Linked DNA regions of Homo sapiens. The gene in region 1 interacts genetically with each later gene. Each region holds a gene or a part of one and is shown in the gene's direction. Other genes may lie near its edges. The genes, in order: CAND1, RAB1A, RICTOR, SEC24A, UBE2J1, TRAPPC12 and SLC39A3.

What was found.
Region 2: changes in CAND1 (region 1) and RAB1A together harm fitness more than expected from each alone (negative genetic interaction), as found in Homo sapiens cells (one large-scale study listed by BioGRID).
Region 3: changes in CAND1 (region 1) and RICTOR together harm fitness less than expected from each alone (positive genetic interaction), as found in Homo sapiens cells (one large-scale study listed by BioGRID).
Region 4: changes in CAND1 (region 1) and SEC24A together harm fitness more than expected from each alone (negative genetic interaction), as found in Homo sapiens cells (one large-scale study listed by BioGRID).
Region 5: changes in CAND1 (region 1) and UBE2J1 together harm fitness less than expected from each alone (positive genetic interaction), as found in Homo sapiens cells (one large-scale study listed by BioGRID).
Region 6: changes in CAND1 (region 1) and TRAPPC12 together harm fitness more than expected from each alone (negative genetic interaction), as found in Homo sapiens cells (one large-scale study listed by BioGRID).
Region 7: changes in CAND1 (region 1) and SLC39A3 together harm fitness less than expected from each alone (positive genetic interaction), as found in Homo sapiens cells (one large-scale study listed by BioGRID).

The regions. Positions count from the first base shown.
Region 1 is NC_000012.12:67,300,358-67,303,857, forward strand, and holds part of CAND1 (cullin-associated NEDD8-dissociated protein 1), read left to right. Parts: intron 1-1,965; coding exon 1,966-2,258; intron 2,259-3,500. UniProt on the Homo sapiens protein: Key assembly factor of SCF (SKP1-CUL1-F-box protein) E3 ubiquitin ligase complexes that promotes the exchange of the substrate-recognition F-box subunit in SCF complexes, thereby playing a key role in the cellular repertoire of SCF complexes.
Region 2 is NC_000002.12:65,120,107-65,123,606, reverse strand, and holds part of RAB1A (ras-related protein Rab-1A), read left to right. Parts: intron 1-3,500. UniProt on the Homo sapiens protein: The small GTPases Rab are key regulators of intracellular membrane trafficking, from the formation of transport vesicles to their fusion with membranes.
Region 3 is NC_000005.10:38,938,400-38,941,899, reverse strand, and holds part of RICTOR (rapamycin-insensitive companion of mTOR), read left to right. Parts: 3' UTR 1-3,500. UniProt on the Homo sapiens protein: Component of the mechanistic target of rapamycin complex 2 (mTORC2), which transduces signals from growth factors to pathways involved in proliferation, cytoskeletal organization, lipogenesis and anabolic output.
Region 4 is NC_000005.10:134,721,785-134,725,096, forward strand, and holds part of SEC24A (protein transport protein Sec24A), read left to right. Parts: intron 1-1,782; coding exon 1,783-1,886; intron 1,887-3,195; coding exon 3,196-3,310; 3' UTR 3,311-3,312. UniProt on the Homo sapiens protein: Component of the coat protein complex II (COPII) which promotes the formation of transport vesicles from the endoplasmic reticulum (ER).
Region 5 is NC_000006.12:89,326,125-89,328,722, reverse strand, and holds the end of UBE2J1 (ubiquitin-conjugating enzyme E2 J1), read left to right. Parts: 3' UTR 1-2,098; downstream 2,099-2,598. UniProt on the Homo sapiens protein: Catalyzes the covalent attachment of ubiquitin to other proteins. Functions in the selective degradation of misfolded membrane proteins from the endoplasmic reticulum (ERAD) and is essential for cells to recover from ER stress.
Region 6 is NC_000002.12:3,473,694-3,476,879, forward strand, and holds part of TRAPPC12 (trafficking protein particle complex subunit 12), read left to right. Parts: intron 1-3,186. UniProt on the Homo sapiens protein: Component of the TRAPP complex, which is involved in endoplasmic reticulum to Golgi apparatus trafficking at a very early stage.
Region 7 is NC_000019.10:2,734,521-2,737,017, reverse strand, and holds part of SLC39A3 (zinc transporter ZIP3), read left to right. Parts: coding exon of another isoform or gene 1-78; exon of another isoform or gene 79-2,492; intron 2,493-2,497. UniProt on the Homo sapiens protein: Transporter for the divalent cation Zn(2+). Mediates the influx of Zn(2+) into cells from extracellular space. Controls Zn(2+) accumulation into dentate gyrus granule cells in the hippocampus.

The DNA.
Region 1 (3,500 bases):
TCCTATCTTTAATCCAGATCTCACTTGTGAATCCAGATTCATATGCAACTGCTTAATTAATATTGCTGCTTGGATATCTAAAATATCTTTTCCCTGCCCCTTCCCCATCTCCCACCTAACCTGTTCTTCTTTAGCCTTTTCCATCTCAGAATGGTACCTCTATTCTTCTTAGTTGATCAGGCCAAAAACCTTGCAGTCATACCTGATTCCTTTTTCACACATCCCTCAGCTAGTCTTCCACCTCAGAACTATCTTTCATTTTATTGTTTTTATTTTGTTTATCACACTTAGTAACTTTCTGACATACTGTAATTGATGGTCTCCTACCTATTAGAATATAAGTTTCATGAAGGCTAGATGTTTTAATCTCTTGATTGACTGCTTTATTCCAGTGCCTAGGACAGTACTTGACACACAGGCAATCAATAAATGGGTTGTATTAATGAAGGGAAACTTTAGCTTATATTTTAATATGAATATCTTTTGAAGAAAGCAGTAGCAATGTATATTCCAGGTTTTGAATTTTGTTTTTTTGTGTGCTGTATAACAAACTAGGTACTTCACCTGCTTTATCACTTAGTATGAATTATACCCATTAAATGACTTTTCTACCATGGTGTTTTTGTGATTTATAAAATCAACGTAATTTTAGTGAATAAGGACATTTGTTAATTTTTTATAATCTTGTTTTTAATAAAGCTTATATTTCTGGGAGGCAATTGCCATAGTGTATTGACATGGAAAAAATTTTATGTGCTCTTAACTTGATAGTGTATTTTGGCAGTATCTTTTAACTTTATTTGAATAGATATTGGTAAATAAGCAAACGTCTTGCATTTAGCAGTATTTGGTTGTATTTTCCTGTAATGTGCTAAGGTGAATTTTAAGCTTTTGAGTTGGAAAATTTTATTATTTTGTTGTATACTGTAGAATCTTCTAAGGCCTAGCTGGCTACATTTGACTGTCAAACTAAGCTAATTGGAATAAAAGCCAGTAAAAAGTTACTACTCCGCTCTATTATTTCAAGGCTATGTATAGTCTTATCTAAGAATAAAGAAATTATTGTGAGATAATTTTAGACTATCATGATAACTGCTAATATTTCTGCCACCTTTCTGACTTCATATTACCCAACTAATTAAACCTGATGGTGTTAGAAAGAAAGATTTTCTGGAGATTTCACACACATGTTATCCATCAAGTATAGATAAGTGAGATACAATTCTTAGTGCTTTTGCTTTGAATGTTTAAGGTTTAGCATTAGGGGAAAAAATGGTCCTCTGTTAAGTGTGCAGCATTTTCTTGGTATAATTAAGCAAAAATGGTTTTGTTAAAGTACATTAAGACAAAATTGTGAAAGGTTTAGAATATACATATTTGTTCCTCACAGCTTATCAACAAGTTGAGTGAAAAGCCTTGTAGTCACAAAGCTGATGTCAACCTTCTTTTTATTCCCAGCAAATTAGTTCTACAGTGTTTTGGGATTGGTAACCATTCTTTTTATCACCTACTCTATTACCACAAATCCATTTCATGGTTTGTCTTATAAAGTCCCTGATTGTTTGCTTGATTTTTCCTATGCTGTTAAGTAAGTTCTTTGAATTTTGTTTCAAAGGCTGGGAAATTTATGACTATAAATATTTATATTCTAAAGAAGTTGAATGTGTTAATTGATGATTTTAAAGGGTTAAAATAAGCAGCAGTTCATTACAAAGTAAATGAGAAAATGTTTAACTAATTAAAAATACCATTATGTTTGTTTTTTAAGTTTAATTTATGTGCAGATTTACAGAAATAACAAGCTCTTTGTTCAAGTTCTAGTTCTGTTGAAACCTACCTGTTGCTGTATATGTTACCGGAAAGTTAGATTAACTGATTTGGTTAAGAATATCAATTGATTTTCTGTTTTAAATGATATACTTCTCTTGTCATTAATAGCCTGTTTACATTAAAACTTACCCTTAGGGAGTGATGATGAATACAGTGATGATGATGACATGAGTTGGAAAGTGAGACGTGCAGCTGCGAAGTGCTTGGATGCTGTAGTTAGCACAAGGCATGAAATGCTTCCAGAATTCTACAAGACCGTCTCTCCTGCACTAATATCCAGATTTAAAGAGCGTGAAGAGAATGTAAAGGCAGATGTTTTTCACGCATACCTTTCTCTTTTGAAGCAAACTCGTCCTGTACAAAGTTGGCTATGTGACCCTGATGCAATGGAGCAGGGAGAAACACCTTTAACAATGCTTCAGAGTCAGGTGGGTTTTAAAGTAAAGTTTAGAAAATCATGATAGTAAATGCAATGCTTTTAAAATTGTCTTTATATGGAAAGGTGAGTTCCAGAATATCTATAGAGAAGCAGAAAGTTCTAGGATATGTTTATATAGTTAATGCATGTTCATATTATGTTAGTTGTAAACTATTCTAATTGAATTATTCTTGGCTTTACATGATAAACAATATTTAAATAATTTTAAGATTCAGTAAAGTAGTCTTTATCTTTGATGTTAATAGAGAAGTCTTAGAGCTGTGGAGTCATACTACTTGCGATCACATAACTGACTTCATTTCTAATTTAGGTGTGTGATCTTGGGCAAGTTATTTAGTCATTTTATTAAACCTCACTTTTCTTATTTGTAATAAGAACGTACTTAGAAATATCTACCTGTGGTTGTGAGAGCTGGGTGATCTGTGTAGAGCATTCAGTGTAGTGCCTACTACATATATGCTTGATATATGCCAGTACTTACTAATAAAATACACATTTTTTCACTTGAGGGCATTTGTTTTCTAAGATCCTAAACATTAGAGCTATTATATGCTCCCATTTATTGAATATTTATTACATACCAGGCATTCTCCTATCTTATATGTAATCTCTACAGCAGCCCTATGGGATGCACAAATAGTAGGTCAATTTTTATAGATTACAAAACAGATATTGCCAGGGATTAAACCAGTGGAGAGGACGGGACACACATACTGTATCTATCTTGTTTTTAAGTAGTACAAATAAATACATTTTTGTGGTGAACTTACTCATAAAGGTGAATGTTGAAGATTAATTGTAGAAGGAAATGAGATAAAGTGTATGGAGGACATATGCAAGTGAGTGAGTATATAGAAGTCAGGTATTGCTCAGTAGAGTTGCCAGGAATTCTGACAATGCTATGGAAAGTCAGACATTTTTTTTGTTTTGTCTAGTTCTTAGATCATTGTGTAATTAGGGTATGTGTCCATGTAGTTTGGTTGTTGGGATTTTTCTTGGCTTTTTGTTTTTACTCTGTACTTGCTTTGCTGTTGAGGTATTCTAGAAGCTCCGTTGATAGCTTTGCATCCGTAAGATTTGTTAGTAGAGACCCTGTTTGTTTTACTGACTAGCAAAACATTAGGAAGTTTAGAGCAGATGTCTTTTAATCATACCCCTGCTGCTTGTAGCTACATTTGAAGTGAGGTTGATTCCTTCTAACAGCAAATGGAAAGTAAGAAAAGGACCTGTT
Region 2 (3,500 bases), on another chromosome or scaffold:
ATCCACCCACCTCAGCCAAATTGCTGGGATTACTTGTGTGAGCCACGCGCCTGGCTTCTACTTGGCTTTTAAAGGGAATTTTGCTTTCTGAGTAATTTTATTTCTCAGGTATCTTGGTCTTTTTAATTCTGGAAGCAATCTTAATAATTTATGTATGTGCCCTGTAATCCCAGCACTTTGGGAGGCCGAGGTGGGCGAATCACGAGGTCAGGAGATCGAGACCATCCTGGCTAACACGGTGAAACCCCATCTACTAAAAATACAAAAAATTAGCTGGGCGTGGTGGCAGGCGCCTGTAGTCCCAGCTACTTGGGAGGCTGAGGCAGGAGAATCATTTGAACCCGGGAGGCAGAGCTTGCAGTGAGCCGAGATCGCGCCACTGCACTCCAGCCTGGGCGACAGAGCGAGACTCTGTCTCAAAAAAAAAAAAAAAAAAATTTACGTATGTGCTAACATCCTGCTATATTCACCTTCCATAGCAATCTGTTGGCTGTGTGTTGTGTATGTGTGTGTTTTCTCTTCTGGGTAGTTTTGACTATACCTATGTGATGGTTTCACTATTTGTAGTTTGAATAGTTCAGTTTTATTTTGGATAGTAAAGAAGAGCTTGCTTTTTTTTTTTTTTTTTTTTTGTCTGAGACGGAGTCTTGTTCTGTTGCCCAGGCTGGAGTGCAGTGGTGTGATCTGGGCTCACTGCAAGCTCTGCCTCCTGGGCTCACACCATTCTCCTGCCTCAGCCTCCCGATTAGCTGGGACTACAGGTGCCCGCCGCCAGGCCCAGCTAAATTTTTGCATTTTTTAGTAGAGATGGGGTTTCACTGTGTTAGCCAGGATGATCTCCTGACCTTGTGATCCACCTGCCTCTGCCTCTCAAAGTGCTGAGATTACAGGCGTGAGCCACCACGTCTGGCCAGAATAGCTTTCTTTTGTGGCAAGCTATATACTTTCCTAATATATGAACATGTTTAGGGTAAAATAAGATGCTTCTTAACGTTTTGAGATTTAAAAAAAATTTGCTAATCAACTTTGAGTGTCTGTTTTTTGAGATATAGGGTCTTACTCTGTCACGCAGGCTACAGTGCAGTGATGCAATCATAACTTACTATAGCCTCCAACTCCTAGCCGGGTTTCAGTGATCCTCCCACCTCAGCCTCCTGAGTAGCTGAGAATACAAGCGCGTGCCACCACACCTGGCTAATTTTTTTTTTTTTTTTGTATTTTTTGTAGGGATGGGATTTCAATATGTTGCCCCAGGCTAGTCTCAAATTCCTGGTCTCGAGATCCACCTGCCTCAGCTTCCCAAAGTGCTGGGATTATAGGCATGAGCCCCACGCTTGGCTGAGTGTCTTAAGATGAAGAAAAACTGAAAATGGGTGTAGTGTGCCAGTGCATGAGGTATTTTAAATGTGTAGCTTACCAGCTTTTTTTTTTTTTTTTTTTTTTTTTTTTTTGAGATAGAGTCTTGCTCTGTCACCCAGGCTGGAGTGCAGTGGCACAATCTTGGCTTACTGCAACGTCTGTCTCCCGGGTTCCAGCATTTCTTCTGCCTCAGCCTCCTGAGTAACTGGGACTACAGGCGTCCACCACCACGGCCAGCTAATTTTTATATTAGTAGAGATGGGGTTTCACCATGTTGGCCAGGCTGGTCTCCAACTCCTGACCTCAGGTGATCCGCCTGCCTTGGTCTCCCAAAGTGCTAGGATTACAGGCGTGAGCCACTACGTTTGGCTGCTTATCAGCTTTTTACCACTTTGTCGCCACTACATTTTGGAATTTTCCTTTGAGAATTAGGCAAAATGCCCAGACTCCCCCCCGGCCCCCGCTTTAGAGGGAGAGGGGAGCAATTAGACTATTCCTTTGTTTCCCTATAGAAGGTGGGGCTGAGATTACTGCTTTGATATCTGGAATGTAATTTAGGGAAGAAAATTTAGGTCTTGGCCTTTCTTTGGAACCACCCTGGGAGTGTTGCAGATTATTAATAGGGTAATGGTGGAATGATATTCAGGGGAAAAATGGTCCTGAGGAGCCAGAGAACTAAGTGTTAGTTTGTTGGCTGACTGAAACATGTGAGAGATAGGGTACAGAAGAAGTAGGAAATAGTTTTCCTTGGTACTTCTGTGACAGGTTGGCTCAATTGGCTGGAACACCCTACACTGCTTTATTAAATCCAAGGTTGTGATAGGTTCCAGTTAAGTTTACTGTGTTCTATGCTTGTAGATTTCCTAATTAGGACAAGTAGTGTTAAATATGCATGCCTTTATTCACAAGAGGGACCATTCTTTTGGAAACATCACTTTTTAATAATACTAGGTGCTATTTAGCACTTACTCGGTGCCAGCCACGTGGCTATGGTTTTTTTTTTTTTTTTTTTCGAGACATGATCTAGCTCTGTCTCCCAGGCTGGAGTGGTGGTAGCACAGTCATGGCTCACTGCAGTCTCAACCTCCTGTACTCTAGTGATCCTCCTGTCTCAGCCTCCTGAGTAACTGGCACCATGCCTGGCTAATTTTTTTTTAAGAGATGAGATGTCGCTATGTTGCCTATGCTGGTCTCGAACACCTGGGCTCAAGTGATCCTCCTGCCTGAGCCTCTCAAAGTGTTGGGATTACAGGTGTGACCCACCTCACTTGGCCATCTATGGTCTTTACATAGGGCATTTTGTGCAGTCTGCGTCTCAAACTAGTGATCTTCAACAGTGAAACTCAGTGAATTATGTAATTCATGTTTTCCAAGAACAATGATGGATTTAATTTCTCTGAATGTATTTCCTTTGTATAATAATAGTACTTAAGTGGAATTACTCTTTGTCCTTTCTACTCTCCTTATAGATATTTTCTGGTATCTTGATTTGGGACTGTTACATTTAACCCATTTATGGTCGTGTAGCCATACTCACGTTACATTTGATGCATCTGCTCCCTTTGTGTCTATATACTCATATAACATTTTGCATAAAGTTATAGGCAGTTCACACCAAGGCTGTTCATGAACCTCAGATTAAGAATACTTGATTTAGGAGATTGAAAACAGAAAAGAGAATGTTAACTATCATTATCAATATTAAAATGTGAAAATCTGAGAGTGACAAAGCTTAGCTTTAAATCTGGTATCCCAAACTCATTTGAGTTTTTTTTTTTTTTTTTTTTTTTTTGAGACAAGGTGTCGCTTTGTCCCCCAGGCTGGAGTGTAGTGGTGTGATCTTGGCTCACTGCAACCTCCACCTCCCAGGTTCAAGTGATTCTCCTGCCTCAGCCTCTGAAGTTGCTGGGATTACAGGCTGCGCCACCACGCCCAGCTAATTTTTTGTATTTATAGTAAAGACGGAGTTTCACCTTATTGGCCAGGCTGGTCTCAAACTCCTGATCTTGTGATCCTCCCGCCTCGGCCTCCCAAAGTGCTGGGATTACAGGTGTGAGCCACTGTTCCCGGCCTAATTTGAGTTTTAAAATGTGGAGTTTAAGATGTTAGTCTTAAAGTGGGTTAGATGAAATTTATAAAAA
Region 3 (3,500 bases), on another chromosome or scaffold:
TTGTTTGTTAACTAACTTGTGGAAAGCAGGAATCAGTGTCTCTAAGGCTGCATCCTATTACCACAATGGGGTGTGCTATAACTGCTGGTATTAGAGAGGGAACTTTGGCCCTTTCACGTTTTTCTTAATGTTTGTAACACTACTTCAGAGGTTTATAACCTCAAAGCAGAAGAAGAGCCTCAACAACCCGGGACTTATAAGTTATTTTTATGTTACTAGACTTGCATAAAGATTCTTGTTTTCCAACTCTTCATTTTGTTGCAATGTGTTATTACAGGATATATGAACCAATTAAGGTTTTTCACTACAGTTCTTGAATAAAATTTAAAAATCATTTTTTATTTTAATTAAAAATATTTCCCATTTATAGAATGCATATATTTGCAATGGACTTCCACTTTCATCAACTTTCCATCTCATCGCTTTAAACAGGAACTTGAACAAGCACTGTTAGTTTAGACCTAAAGGATAGGAAAGCATTAAATAATACTTTGGATCTCCTGAGGAAAAGATAAGTTTGCTTGCAATTTACACATTCCATGGGGAAAGAAGAGCCATATTTCCTTAAAAAAAACATTAATAAAGCTTGTTATTGAGAAAAATTGTAGTGAAAAGCCTTAAGTACCAAATTTTAAAGCAGCAGTAACTTAATTTTTATATCAGTGTTTTTGTTTTGCACAAACTAAATGCAGTGGTAGGTGGGTTTATGAGTATATTAATTGCCTTTATCCATTTGTGAAGTTAAGTTGATGAGGGCAAGGTTTTTGTTTGTTTAATTTGTATATGTCTAAAGGTATTTGGAACTTTTTACAGGAATTAAACATATATGCAAATTTGTATATAAAAATAGCATGGCCATCATTTGAATGCTTGTAAATGAAAGGATTATCTTTTTTGAGATCTATATATAAATAGAAATAGAAAATCCAGCTGGACTGATTAGGATTCTTTTTTAATTCATTTGTGTATAACATTTTTATTACAATTACACATCAGTTTTGACACAGTCATAGCAACATTAATATTTTCCCATGATGCAGATCCTTTTTGTAATGGGCTTGTTCTTTGAGATCTCTGTAAAGAACCCTGTGAACTAGAAAACATAACTCACAGAGATACTTTTTTAAAAAATTTATTTACTGGAACTGAAAGTTCCAGTTGGGATGAAGCATTTCATCTCACTTCATAACACCTCTTTGACTGCACTTCAGTGAATTGTTCTTATGTGCACTGTGTAGCAACTTACATTATAACAAAGCAGATAAGGGCTGTAAGCTGCTGCTTATGTTGAAAAGTGGTTCTTCAGATTTTCTCTCATAAAATCCAGTTGAAGATAAATAATTTTTTTATACTTTATCACTGAACCCAAGTGTTTATTTAAATGTCAACAGTACTTCTAAGAACGTTGCCTGTCATCGTGGTCTTTGGTCTTGGATAACTAAACTGCCTTTCCAGAGAACCAAATGTCAGAGTTACTAGACCAAATAGTGGTTAAAACCTCCAAAGGAAGTAATGTAATCTTATTCATAATGGGATTAACATATTTTAGACATTCATTTTAAACACTACCTCAGTTAATATAGAGTATAAAAATCTGTGGTTTAATCCCTCAAAAGTTAACAGTAATTTTTTTTTTGTCTTACACACACACACACCCCCTCCCCCACCATCACTATCCCTGTACCCTCACCTTGGTCATCTATCCTGAAATAAGGCTTAGTTAGTATTGGCCTGAATGTTTTGTGTTTTTTTTTTTGTTTTTTTTTTTTACTGTTACTTTGAAAAATATGTATGTATACCTTATCATATCTGCCTATATCACTTACTTTGGGGAGATACTCAGAGCTTTGTGGTTATCAGTATACTAAAAAAAAAAAAAAGTCTACGCTTAAATTTATAGTGCTATTTGGTTTCTCCATGATTTCACTGACAGGTCTAATACATTTTCTTTGAGTACTTGTTTGTAAAAAGTAGACTTTATGGTGAAAAATACATGCAGTGCCAAGTGATTAACTTAAGTGTTTAAAAATATTAAATTATAGCAGAAGAGGTTAGGAATGATATCAGCAGTAATAGAAATAATTGAGAAAATCATCTATAAATAATAGATATTACAGACTATAGAATACCAAAATAATGTCAATACTGTAGTTTTTAAAGATTTTAGGATTAATCTTAGTCCATATAAATTTGTACTATTGGTAATTATTGAATAATTGGGAGGAATCTGGGCAGTTGTGCTGGTTGTAAACTATGAATTTCTAATCGTAAAGTGAATTGTTATTTCTAATTGAACTTTTTTTCAAGAACAGATTTCAGCCTCACATACTAAGTAAATACTGATAAATAAGGAAATTAGAAATTTAGTATTCATAATTAAATATGCTCTAAAATTTCCTATACTTTTATTTCCTGTTTATTCTTAGGTAGATTGGAAGGGGGAAACAGTCTGTTCTCCCTAATTAAATTTTTTCTAATAACGATTAGTAGAATATGGACATTCTATATGACAGTGACATTAAAAGAGGCTCTTTGGAAGTATATACATTATTAACATAATGTGTACAAGTCCTTTTGAAATGACAACTTTAATGGGTTTCAGCTCTTTTATCTAGAGCTTGAGATAATTCAAGCTGAGTTTTTCAGGGCATATCACAACGGCCAAGTGTTCAGCAGTGGGATATCAATGCTTATTTACATTTTCCTACTGCTATTTATATAAAATGTTATTCCATTCAGAGGATGCCTTTTATCCCCACATTAAAGCACAGATCATTAAGCAATAAAAACCAAATTGTCTGTCATTCAAATTATAACTGCAGTTATTTTTGCATGGTAAGAGTGAGGTGCTAATTTTGTGTGAGATGAACTTTGTAAACTACTTTGGGAAATGTTCTTTGGAAGTAAGGTTTTTTCTCCTTTAGTCTTATGCTTCCACTTTTGTCTCAGATTCACAATCCATTAAAACATGGGGAAAAAAGAAAAGGTAAAATTGAGAGACTTTTGTTAGAGGAGCTATTTGGAATGAACCAACATTTCAGATTTTCCAAAATGTAAGTTAGGAAGTCTCCATTGTCTCTGCATTAACAAAATACACTGTTACTATCTTAATCTCAAGAGTGTCATTACAGTGAGAATCTCATTTAAAAGCATACCAGTGAAATTAATAGCAGTGCTTATCAAAGAACACTGAAATCTGTGAGAATCTTTCTAGGAGCATTCTTTTCTTCTTTTAGTTCCAAGTTCCAGGGTATTTTTCATTCCTAGTAGGTTTATATGACTCACAGAATGTGGACTTTTTTCCTGTTTGGAGTATTTTTGTAATGTAAGTATCGGATAGCTGCACCACAGCATGCATAAATTGCACATTTTGTTTTACTTTCTTTATAGAATATTTAATTTCAAAAATATAATTTATGCCAAAAAAAGCATACCTTTCAATTTTGCTACTTGGTTGATTTAGCACAAAATGCAAAGTCTTGGGGCAGAGAGGGGGAGTG
Region 4 (3,312 bases), on another chromosome or scaffold:
GTGCTAGGACCTGGGAGGTTGAGGCTGAAGTGAGCAGTGATTATGCTGCTGCACTCCCGCCTGGGCAACAGAGCAAGAACCTGTCTCAAAAAATAAATAAATAAAAGACTGCTGTGTCAGGATTATAGCTAGGATAAGCACTGGCTTTCAGGCCTTAAACAGAACTACTGGGCTGGATGACTAAGCGTTTTAGGTAATGAGTAAGAAATTGTTATATTTTTAATAATAACTGAACGAATCAATTAATTCTTGACGTCATGCTAAAATGAAGGGAAGAACTAAGAGGTTTTTTTAGATGAGGGCTTAGAAACTATGCCCAAGGGGTACCTGCTACTTGTTTTTGTAAATAAGGTTTTATTGGAACATCCATGCCTGTTCACTTATGTATTGTTTATGGCTACTTTGGTGTAACAATGGCAAGGTTGCCCGGGCGTGGTGGCTCACACCTGTAATCTCAGCGCTTTGGGAGGCCGAGGCTGGCGAATCACCTGAGGTCGGGAGTTCAAGACCAGCCTGCCCAACATGGAGAAACCCCCGTCTCAAGGCGAGGTGGGCGAATGACCTGAGGTCAGGAGTTCGAGACCAGCCTGGCCAACATGGAGAAACCCCCATCTCTACTAAAAATACAAAATTAGCCGGGTGTGGTGGCGCACACCTGTAATCCCAACTACTCTCCCAGCTACTCTGGAGGCTGAGGCAGGAGAATCTCTGGCAGGCGAATCGCTTGAATCTGGGAGGCAGAGGTTGCAGTGAGCCAATATCACGCCATTGCACTCCAGCCTGGGCAACAAGAGCGAAACTCTGTCTCAAAAAATAAAAAACAATGGCAAAGTTAAGTAGTTGCAGCAGAGACCAAATGATCTGCAAGCCTAAAGTACTTACTATATGGGCCTTTAAGAAGTTTGCCTACTCCTGTTCTAGAATATTCGTAGAAAATTGTGTTCCCAAGTCAAGTTGCACTGGCATCACTGCAGGAATTTTTTAGGAAAGCAAAATCTCAGGACCACAACCCTGCCCCAGACCTCCTAAATCATTATCTGTAGTTCAAGAAGATGATCAGGTGATTCATATACATGTTAAAATTCAAGACCAGGCATGGTGGCTCACACCTGTTATCCCAGAACTTTGGGAGGCCGAGGTGGGCAGATTGCTTAAGCCCAGGAGTTCAAGACCAGCCTGAGCAACGTGGTGAGATACTCGTCTCTACTAAAAATACAAAAATTACCTGGCAGGTGGCACACGCCTCTTATTCCAGCTACTTGGTGGGGCTGAGGTGAGAGAATCACTTGAGCCTCAGGAGGCAGTGGAGGTTACAGTGAGCCATGATCACACCAGTGCACTTCAGCCTGGGCAACAGAGCAAGACCTTGTCTCAAAAAATAAGTTAAATTTGAGAAGTAGACCGGGCACTGTGGCTCACTCCTGTAATCCCAGCACTTCGGGAGGCCGAGGCAGGTGTATCGCCTGAGCCCAGGAGTTCGAAATCAGCCTGGGCAACATGGCAAAACCCATCTCTACAAGAAATATAAAAATTAGCCAGGCATGGTGGCACGCATCTGTAGTCCCAACTATTCAGAAGGCTATGGTGGGAGGATCACCGGAGCCTGGAGGTTGAGACTGCAGTGAGCCATGATTATGCCACTGCACTCCAGCCTGTCAACAGAGGCCTTGTCTCAAAAAAGAAAAAAAATGTAATTAAAAAAATAAAAATTTGAAAAGTACCATAGACCATACATTAGATATGTAATTAAAGTAATTGGATATTGTTGGTTTTGGTTAACAGACAGACCTTCCAGAACTTGATACACCAGAATCTGCCAGAATAATAGCTTTCATCTCTTGGCTTAGAGAGCAGAGACCATTTTTCCCAATACTTTATGTAATAAGGTAAGTTGAATTTTCCATTTGCTAGTAGTAAAACAATTTGTTTGGCCTTGCCAGGACCTGACAAGAGTATAGCAAAAAAAAAGAAGAAAGAAAAAGAGTTCTTCTCAATAAATAGCAGTAAATCATACCTTATATCCAATGATTGGAAATACAGAACTTTTTTCATTTTTAATTGACTAATAATAAGTGTATATATTTATGGGGTACACTAATTTATTGATACATGTATACATTGTGGAATGATCAAATTCGGCTAATTAACATATTCATCTTCTCAGCCAATTATTGTTTCCTTGTGGTGAGAACATTTAAAATCCATTATTTTGCCTATTTTAAAATATACAATACATCATTATTAACCATAGTCATCATACTGTGTAATAGATCACCAGAATCCATTCATCCTAACTGAAATTTTGTACCCTTTGACTAACATTTCTTCTTTCCTTCTCCATAGCCACTTCCTGCCTCCTAGCCTCTAATAACCATAATTCTACTTTCTACTTATATGAGTTCAACTTTTTTAGGTTCCACACATAAGTAAGATCGTGTGGTGTTTGTCTCTCTGTGCCTGGTTTATTTCACTCAGCATAATGTCACAAATGACAGAATTTCCTGTTTTTTAAAGGCTGAAGTCGCCGGGCGCGGTGGCTCATGCCTGTAATCCCAGCACTTTGAGAGGTCGAGGCGGGCAGATCACCTGAGGTTGGGAGTTCGAGACCAGCCTGACCAACATGGAGAAACCCCGTCTCTACTAAAAATACAAAATTAGCCTGGCATGGTGGCACATGCCTGTAATCCCAGCTACTCGGGAGGCTGAGGCAGGAGAATAGCTTGAACCCAGGAGGTGGAGGTTGTGGTGAGCCAGGATCGTGCCATTGCACTCCAGCCTGGGCAACAAGAGTAAAACTCCATCTCAAAAAAAAAAAAAAGGCTCGGTAGAATTCCATTGTATATATATACCACATTTGAAAAATCCATTCAGTTATTTCCATATCGTGGCTATTGTGATTAATGCTGCAGTGATCATGGAAGTGCAGACATCTCTTTGATATACTGATTTCAATTCCTTTGGATATATATTCAGAAATGGAATTTCTGGATCAACTATTTCTCTTAATTCCACCATAAGCTTTTCCCTTAAACAACTTGAAATTTACATAATCAACCAAGTATTCTCAGAGAAAGCCTCTAGAAGTAACTGTTTATATAGTAAATGTTATTAGGGTTATGAGGAAATCAAAAGCCTTCTGACAAGTCTATTTTACTGCTACATTTTATCTAAATTTTTTTGCCTTTTATTCCTAAGGGATGAGAGTCCAATGAAAGCAAACTTCCTTCAAAACATGATAGAAGACAGAACAGAATCTGCATTATCATATTATGAATTCCTGTTGCATATACAGCAACAAGTGAATAAATGAAT
Region 5 (2,598 bases), on another chromosome or scaffold:
GTTAGAAAAACCTTTACTTAGAATTGTCCACCTAGTCAGAGCCCAAGAAAGAATTTTCAGTGGAAAAATCAATATATAACTTAGTGCTAGCTAGCGCCACAGACTCTAGTAGATAATATTATCATCATAATGGCTGGTGAAACCATATAATCACAGAAAAACATTGCCTTCAGCATGTTCAGTTCGCAGCACTGAGGGCACTCTTGAGGGTGTTGTTAATGAAGATTTAATTTTTAAATACAGGTGGTTCCAAGCTTTCAAATAGGTTATGCTCCAAAAGTGTTATTTGTAAGTTAATTTTTTTACAAGTCAAACAATGTTGGAAGTGGTATTTAGGTTCTAGATCGGTCCACGAAAGTTAGCCCATATGTATATCTTGAATAGTATAGGGGAGGGTATTCATAAAGTCCTTATGTGGTTTTAACTAAGTGAAATTATGGACAAGAGAAATAATTGTAAAATCGTCTTAAAGGAAAATTTAATTTTTACTCCTGTTTATGGGACATTCGTTCTATTAACTGTCAGACACAATTTCTGTTTTCATCTGAGAGCCAGTTTTCCTTTATTTCTACATCTAAAATAAGAACATATTGTACACTATTATATAATACAGAATTGTCTTAAACTTTAATAAATTCGCATTTTAAAGGTGTTTACAGATTATTTTTTATATCTGTAGCTGAATTTGTTAAAGTCTAAAAAGCTCAAGGACTTTATGAAGATCTCATTATATGAGGAAAATCATAGGTTACCATTTTATAACTCTATTGCCATAAGAAAATACACTCTAAAATCTTGATTTGAAACATATTAGAAACCTTGATTCAGTGCTCAGTGGTCTCCTAGTAAGAAGTCACCGACGGTAGCGTCATATGAGAAGAAAGAAATCCCCACCACCTCAACCTCTGCTGAGATTGTGTGCTAGGAACAGCCTTCCCTCCGTTTCCCCTCAGTCAAACTTGAGCCAGCCTCTGGATCGATGTGATCTTATTGCATGTTTCCATGGGGTGTACCTATACTTTAAGCCAATCCTGCTGCATTCACTGCTAAGTTAAATAAAAAGCCAAGAAGATTTTGCACTGTGCAGATCCTTTGCTATCTGACTTGCATCTCTTCCCCCACCTGTCAGCTAGCCACCTGCTTGTTTGTGTTGGGATATTTTTTAGCACCTGAAGCACCATCTGAAAGGGGCACCATTTTCTTCTTCCCTTTGATCTCACATATGCTCCCTAAAAATCCTTAAGTTGTCAATCTGATCCCCAGTGTGAGGTTAATGAGCAAAATTGGTCTTTGGGGCCCTTTTTGTCCAAGCCCCACTGAAAGGCCTCTTCAGAAAACTATTATCTTTAAAGCCCTACTTTAACTCCTTAATTCCAGCATACAGCTAAAACTGGATGTATATTCTGGCAAGTAAAGGCTGAGGACTCCTCTTTAATCCTCAGATCTAGATAACTCATGACATTTTATTTGACCAACATAGCACATGATGAGATATCAAGGTAATTAAAATAGCATGCTTGAAAAAAAAATACGTAATCTGTTTCACCTGTAACTGTTTAAGCCAATAAACTTTTCAAAATTTATGTAATGTGGGGCTTTTATGTAGCACTTTACGTTTTCATGCTGCTTATTGTTTTATTCTACTGAAAAAAATGAATTTCAAGATTCTCAACTTTTTTAATTTCAAAAATTGTTTATTGTTTTGACTATAGGAATACAAAATTTCCTATTTTGGGAGAATAAGAACTCTTTTTGTCATTTTTGGCTATGAATAAACTTTCTGGTCTTTTGAGACCACCCATTTTTATAGATCAGAATCAGAAAACAGGTAAACCTCACTCACACATTTGGACTCATTTGAACAAAAATCTAGGCCAAAATACTGAAAAGCCTATGTGTTTTTTTAATTGGAAGTATATGTAAGGTTAATGCATTTAGTGAACGTGACTAACAAAGACTAATGTGCACATTAACAGATGTACTTTTTAAGGTTTTATGGGAGGCTGTGCATTGCTCAAAAGCTGTTGGGAACGCCTTCTGAACAGTTGCCTTCAGAACTAGTTTGAGCTGCTCAATAAAACCAGTGACTTTACTCATACCTTGTTTTTGACCAAAGGTTGTATTCTTTACATCATCCAGTCTTGTCTCTCATCCATTCTACCTCCTAGAATATTTCTCTCTCATCTTTCCACTTCCCTAACTAGGCACTATATCCTATTTAGCTATTAACTCCTCCAAATTGGTGCAGTAACCTCCTAACAGGTCTCTAGTCTCACCCCATTCCTTACATTGCAGCCAGAGTTTTCAATATACAGACCTGATCTCTTCTCTCCTGTTGCTCTTAGATAGGGTGAAACCCTTAACATAAAGCACAAGGCTGTGCATGACTAGAGTCCCACCTAGGTGTCTGGCATAATCAGACCTCAGCAAATGCCTTTGGGGCCTTCCCACAGCTCTGACCTCGATCCACTGGGGCTATACCCTGCCCTGAGAAAAATGAGTAAATAAAGTTATACCATCCACTACCTCATACACCATATAAGAAAATTAACTCAAAATGGATCAAAGGCCTAAATGTAAGAGTTAAAACTATAAAAT
Region 6 (3,186 bases), on another chromosome or scaffold:
CTCCTGGCCTCAAGCAATCCTCCTGCCTCTGCCTCCCAAAGTGCTGGGATTACAGGCATGAGCCACTGGGCCCAGCTGAAATGAGTTTTCTGTATCAATTGCAGACCTATGCTTCTGTGACTAAAGTTGATCAGTGGTAAATATGAAAAGAACTGGGTTTTCTAGCTGACTACAGATTTAATATCATCTAGCAACCTATGTGGCTGTTAACATAGCTGTTCTGTCTTTGGATGGTTTAAAATCATCTGACTCCCACACCACAGAGAAGAATCATTCTTGCCTTCCTCTCCAGTCAACAGCTCACAGCCATGGACTGCAGGACACTCCGCCTTGAGAACACTTTAAAATGGCCATTGCCCATCTGTAATGGCTTCCGTGCCACCAAGGTGATGAGGAATCCCAAAACTGTGACAGAGAAGCAGGTGAAGGAGCTGAGAACTGGAGCTCTCCCCCACCCCTCAGTGCCTGTATTAGTTGGGGCTCTCTAGAGGGACAGGACTCATAGAATAGATGAATCTATGAAGGGGAGTTTATTAGGAGAATTGACTCTCGATCACAAGGTGAGGTCCCACAATAGCTGAGGAGCAAGGAAGCCAGTCCAAGTCCCAGAACCTCGGCAAGTCTGCTCTTTCCAACTTCTGCCTGCTTTATTCTGGCTGTGATGGCAGCTGAAGAGATGGTGCCTACCCAGATTAAGGGCGGGTCGGCCTCCCCCAGCCCACTGACTCAAGTGTTCATCTCCTTTGGCAACACCCTCACAGACACACCCAGGATCAATACTTTGCATCCTTCAATTAAATTGACACTCAGTATTAACCTTGACAGCGCCCAAGGAGGGGAGGGCCAGACCCAGCGCACAGTTCCAGTTTCTGCCACGGAAACACTGACCATGTGTTGCTCTTAAGGTCGGAGCTCCAGGGCGGCGTTTCCCCGGGTTTCTGCGTTTATAAGTGATGTTAGTATCTGGTTTGCGTGTGCACAGGTGACATCTCAAAAGGATATGGTGGCTGTTTTCTGTCTTCATATAAGTTAGAAGCTTGCTTTCTCTCTCTCTGGAAAACTTGAGTAATGTGGAATGATCTATTCCCTGAAGGTTTGAGTATTCACCTAAGAATTGCCTTTGCTGAGCACATGAGGTGTGCTGTGTGCTTTTCCTAATTTATTATTATGAATCTGCCTTAGTGTTGTGTGCCTGAGGATTTTTCTGTGTTTCTGGGAACCATTTTGGTAACTGAGAGTTTTCTAGAAAGCCACCTGTTTGGTCCCTGTTTTCTCGTGGATTCGCACAGAGTAAAAGACAGTGCTCTTACCATTATTTCCATTTCCTTGTTCTGCCTGTAGCTATTTCTACTTTTACATTTCTGTTTATGCTTCCTTTTTCTGGATTAGTTTATACACTGTTTTTTGTCTTTTTCTTTGTGAGACAGGATCTTGCTCTGTCTGCCAGGCTGGAGTGCAGTGGCACAGGTATGATTCACTGCAGAACTCCTGGGCTCAAGAGATTCACCTGCCTTAGCCTCTCATGTAGCTGGGGACCACAGTGCTTACGGCCACACCTGGTGCTTACAGCCACACCTGGCTAATTTTCTTTTCTTTTTTAATGGAGACAAGGTCTCACTTTGTTGCCCGGTCTGGTCTTGAACTCCTGAAATTCAGCGATCCTCCCACCTCGGCCTCCCAAAGGGCTGAGATTACAGGTGTGAGCCACCATGCCCAGCCACTGTATTTCCTTTTTAATAGTGTCTTTTACTGATTTGTTTTCTACATATTCTGGAATACTTTTAATTGCATTTTTATGTTTAATTTTTTCAGTTGCTCCTAACTTTTAGAAATCGGTAGGATTTTGTATCCTAATTACATTTTAATAATTCTGAAAATGTCAAGTTACTTTCTAATCATCAGGAAAGTCAGTGGGTAGCAAAGAATATCCCAAGATTTCTCTGTTATCTTCCTCTGAGACATTGAGTAAAGTCCCATGCCAGCCTCAGGAGGCCTTGCAGTGCGGAGGATCAGCACACGGTCTGGGCGTTGGACAGCCTGGGTGTTGACCACAGTGTTCTGTGTTAGCTGTGTGACCTCAGAAAATTGTCTCATCTTTCCAAGCCCGACGACTTCATCTAGAAAGCGAAGCTAGCGACAGCATCTGCATCCCAGGCTGTCGCGAGGGTCAGGCGAGCTGTGCTTGTAAGCGCTTGCCACGGCCGCCGGCACACGTTAATCTTGATCGGTCTTGATGATGGGCTGTAATCATCTTCAGTTCAGTGTCTCACACGGTCCTGTTAGACAGGAGATGCAGGCGTTCGAGCTGAGGGCCGCGTCACGGAGCCCATGCTGCCTTCGGTTTCTTTTTAGTCCGCAAGTGGGAAATCGATAGTAGTGGACTTCAAACGGCTTCGGACTGTGCAGACGACGGGCAGCGATGGACAGATGCCATTCAGTGTGTGGTGTGTGTGCACGCCTGTGTTTTCTCTTGTTTCATTCTGTTTTTTCTTCCTCCTCGTATGGTATTTCTTTTGTGGGATAACAGCAACAGTTGTGAAGGGCCTGAGATGTTATCCTGTTTCCAAGCTGTGGAGTTAGCTGCCACTTTCATGGATGCTGGCAAAAAATGTAAGATTCCTACGTTAGAGAGGAAGGCTATTTATTACACAGCAACAGCAGTACAGCCAGAGTGGCATTCTTCCCACCAGCCACGGGGCCCTGATTCCTCAGGGTCTTCACCGAGGGCCTCATGAGGCCTGCAGTGGGCTGTGTGGCTGGAGAGGAATCCTGAACTTAGAACACCCAAATCCTTGCTACTGGGAGGCGAGCCTGCCTGCCCTTTGCCCCAGAGGGATGCAGTTTAGCTTACAAGGCTGTCCTCTAAACAGGCATCCTTGTGTAAATGCTTTGAACAAAGCCTTGTCACTGTCTGTGCTTGGAAGACATGCAGAAACATGACACCCATGGAGAACCATCTCCCCACCAGTCATCTGAGAAGTTAGCAGGCTTGTTTTAATGCTGGACAGATGCTTGGCGTGGACAGTCTAAGAGTTAACTAGGCTGCTCAGTATGATAGTGATGGGTGCCCCAGCCCTCCTCATGGAGGTGAGCCGCGCGCATTCAGCTTGTTTCTCATCGAGACAGAGGACAGCATTCTGTTAAGTTTCTGCTGCTGCCATGATAACAGAGCTCGCTGTCACATTC
Region 7 (2,497 bases), on another chromosome or scaffold:
CTTGGCACCTTATGGCCAAGGGACTCTGATGCATTTTCAACACTGATGCCAAGTTCAGTGAAGGCCTTGATGCTGTAAGGGTGACGGAAAGTAGGAAGTGAATTTGCTGTGTGATTGTGAACTGGTTACTTTCTGTCTCTGTGCTCTACCGGCCAAACAAGGGGTTTGGACCAGACCTGGGATTCCCAACAGGTGGACTTGTCGGTTGTCACCTGATAATCAGACCAGACTACCCACCTAGGTAGGGCACACTCTGTCCTGAAGCTGGAAAGCATGGCCTCTCTTCGGTTCCTATATCAGTCAGCTACTGTTGCGTAACAAATTATAGCAAACTGAGCACCTTAGGACTACAGACGTTTATCATCTCACAGTTTCTGTGAGTCAGGGGTCTGGGCACTGCTTCAGGAGCTCACAAGGCAGCAGTCACAGTGTCTCCTGGGCTGTGGTCTCATCTCAACGTTCAACCGGGGATGGGTCGGCCTCTAAGCTCATGTGGTTGTAAGCCAGGTTCAGTTCCTCATTGGTTGTCAGACCGAAGGTGTCTGTTTGTCAGTGTCTGTTGGCTGGGGCAGCCCTCAGAGCCTGGCCACGTGGACCTCCCCAGCATGATCAGTTCCTTCATCAGCAAATGGAGAAGATGGCCATGACTCTGTGTAAGACAGAGGGCACAGTCCCATGTCATGCAGAGGTGACAGGGTATCCCTTCCCCTCTGCCCCAGTGTCCTGCTGGTTAGAAGCAAGTTCAAGTCCTTCCCATACTCAAGTGGCCAGGACCTCACAGGGTATGGCTGTCAAGAGGCAGGGGCTTCTGGGGCCATCTTGGAGTCTGTCCACCCCAACTCCTGACAGCATCATCCTCTGCTGACCTGTTCCTTGAGCTCCCCCATATCAGCAGCCCAGAGTGTGGGTCCCCTGTCAGGCCACAGTGTGACCAGCCCTGGCCATGCTTGCTGGGTGACCCTGGGTGAGTGGCTTCCTCTCTCTGGGCCAGTGCCAGATGTGACATTGAATTTGTGTTGGTTACATACTTGGTGGAGATATGAGGACCCCCTGTTCTTCCTCCCAACGAAAGCATGGAAGCCCTAAGCTTATCCCCCAACCCCTGGCCCTGCTTTTCCTCGTGCCTAGTGTCCAGAAAGGAGGAGAAGGGCTGTTGTCTGGGATTAAATCATCTGAGCCTGTTAGTGTGGCAGAGTAGAGTTCCAGGGTGGCTCCCTGAGCTTCCAGCCCCTGCTCCGCACGCCCCATGCTCTTCCCTCCCCTCGAGTGTGGGTAGGGCTGGGACTGCCGTGCGTGTCACTCCTGCCATTATGTCAGAATCCCAGCAGAGGGGATGTTGCAGCTGTGATGACCGCCCCAGATCGGTTAGCGCTGAGTTCATCAAAAGGGAGGGGGTGGGCCTGGCCTAATCAGGTGAGCCACTCACCCTCCTGCTGGCCTTGGAGAAGCAAAAAGCCAGGGTGTGCCAGGAGAAGGGCATGAAGCGAGGACCCGAGGGCAGCCTCTCGGTGCCAAGAGCCATCCCCGCCAACAGCCAGCCAGGACACGGGGCCTCAGTCCACAGCCACCAGGAGGTGGACTCTTCCGACCTCCAGTGAGCTTGGAAGAGGACCCTGGGTGTCAGTGAGATCTCAGCCCTGATGACACCCTGCGAGACCTGGAGCGTAGGGCCCAGCTAGCCCGCACCTGGATTTCCACCGTTCAGAGCCGAGACACCGCATTCCTGCTGTTCCGCGTGGCTGAGTCTGCATTCGTTCGTTACGCGGTGTGTGAAGACTGACATCTGCACTGCGAGGATGGAGATCTTGGTCATCTCTGACATCTCCTGCATCGCAGAGGCCACTGCCAGCCCCCCTTTTCCCCCATGGTCATGGTGTCACCCCCGTCACCCTCTGACTGCAGGCCTGGGCGACTGCGGGGAGCTTGCTCTTCCCTCCCCCTCATCACAGTGGCCTTCTCATGGCACCCAAACCTTTCCCGCCGTTCTCCTGTCCTCGGGCTGGTCAGGCGGATGAGGTCCCTACTCCCGAGCCCCCAGCCTCACCCACTGCAGGGCCAGGCTCTCAGTCACCCCTGGAAAATGGTGCCTGGTTCACAGCTCCCGTGCATCTGCCTCATCTCTCCTGATCAACGTCTGTCTCTTGGGAGTAGCTAGAGTTCCTCATGAGCTTGTCCTCAAGCGAGGCATGCATGAGGCCTCCAGCCGGTGGTCAGTGAGGGAGTTAAGTGGCTTCTCCGTGGAAACACAGCCTTCTGCTGCAGCAGAGGCTCACCCAGCGTGAACTGCCCCCAGGGAACACTGGGCGATGCCTGGGGACATTGTGGTTGTCACGATGGGGGGTGCTCCTGGCCTGGAGTGGGTGGAGGCCAGAGACACTGCTCAGCAGCACCCTGCAGTGCCCAGGACGGCCCCGTCCCAGAGAACAATCCAGCCCCGAATGTCAGCACCTTCCCCCTACCCGAGTTGTGAAAATAAAAAATGTTTCCAGACATTGCC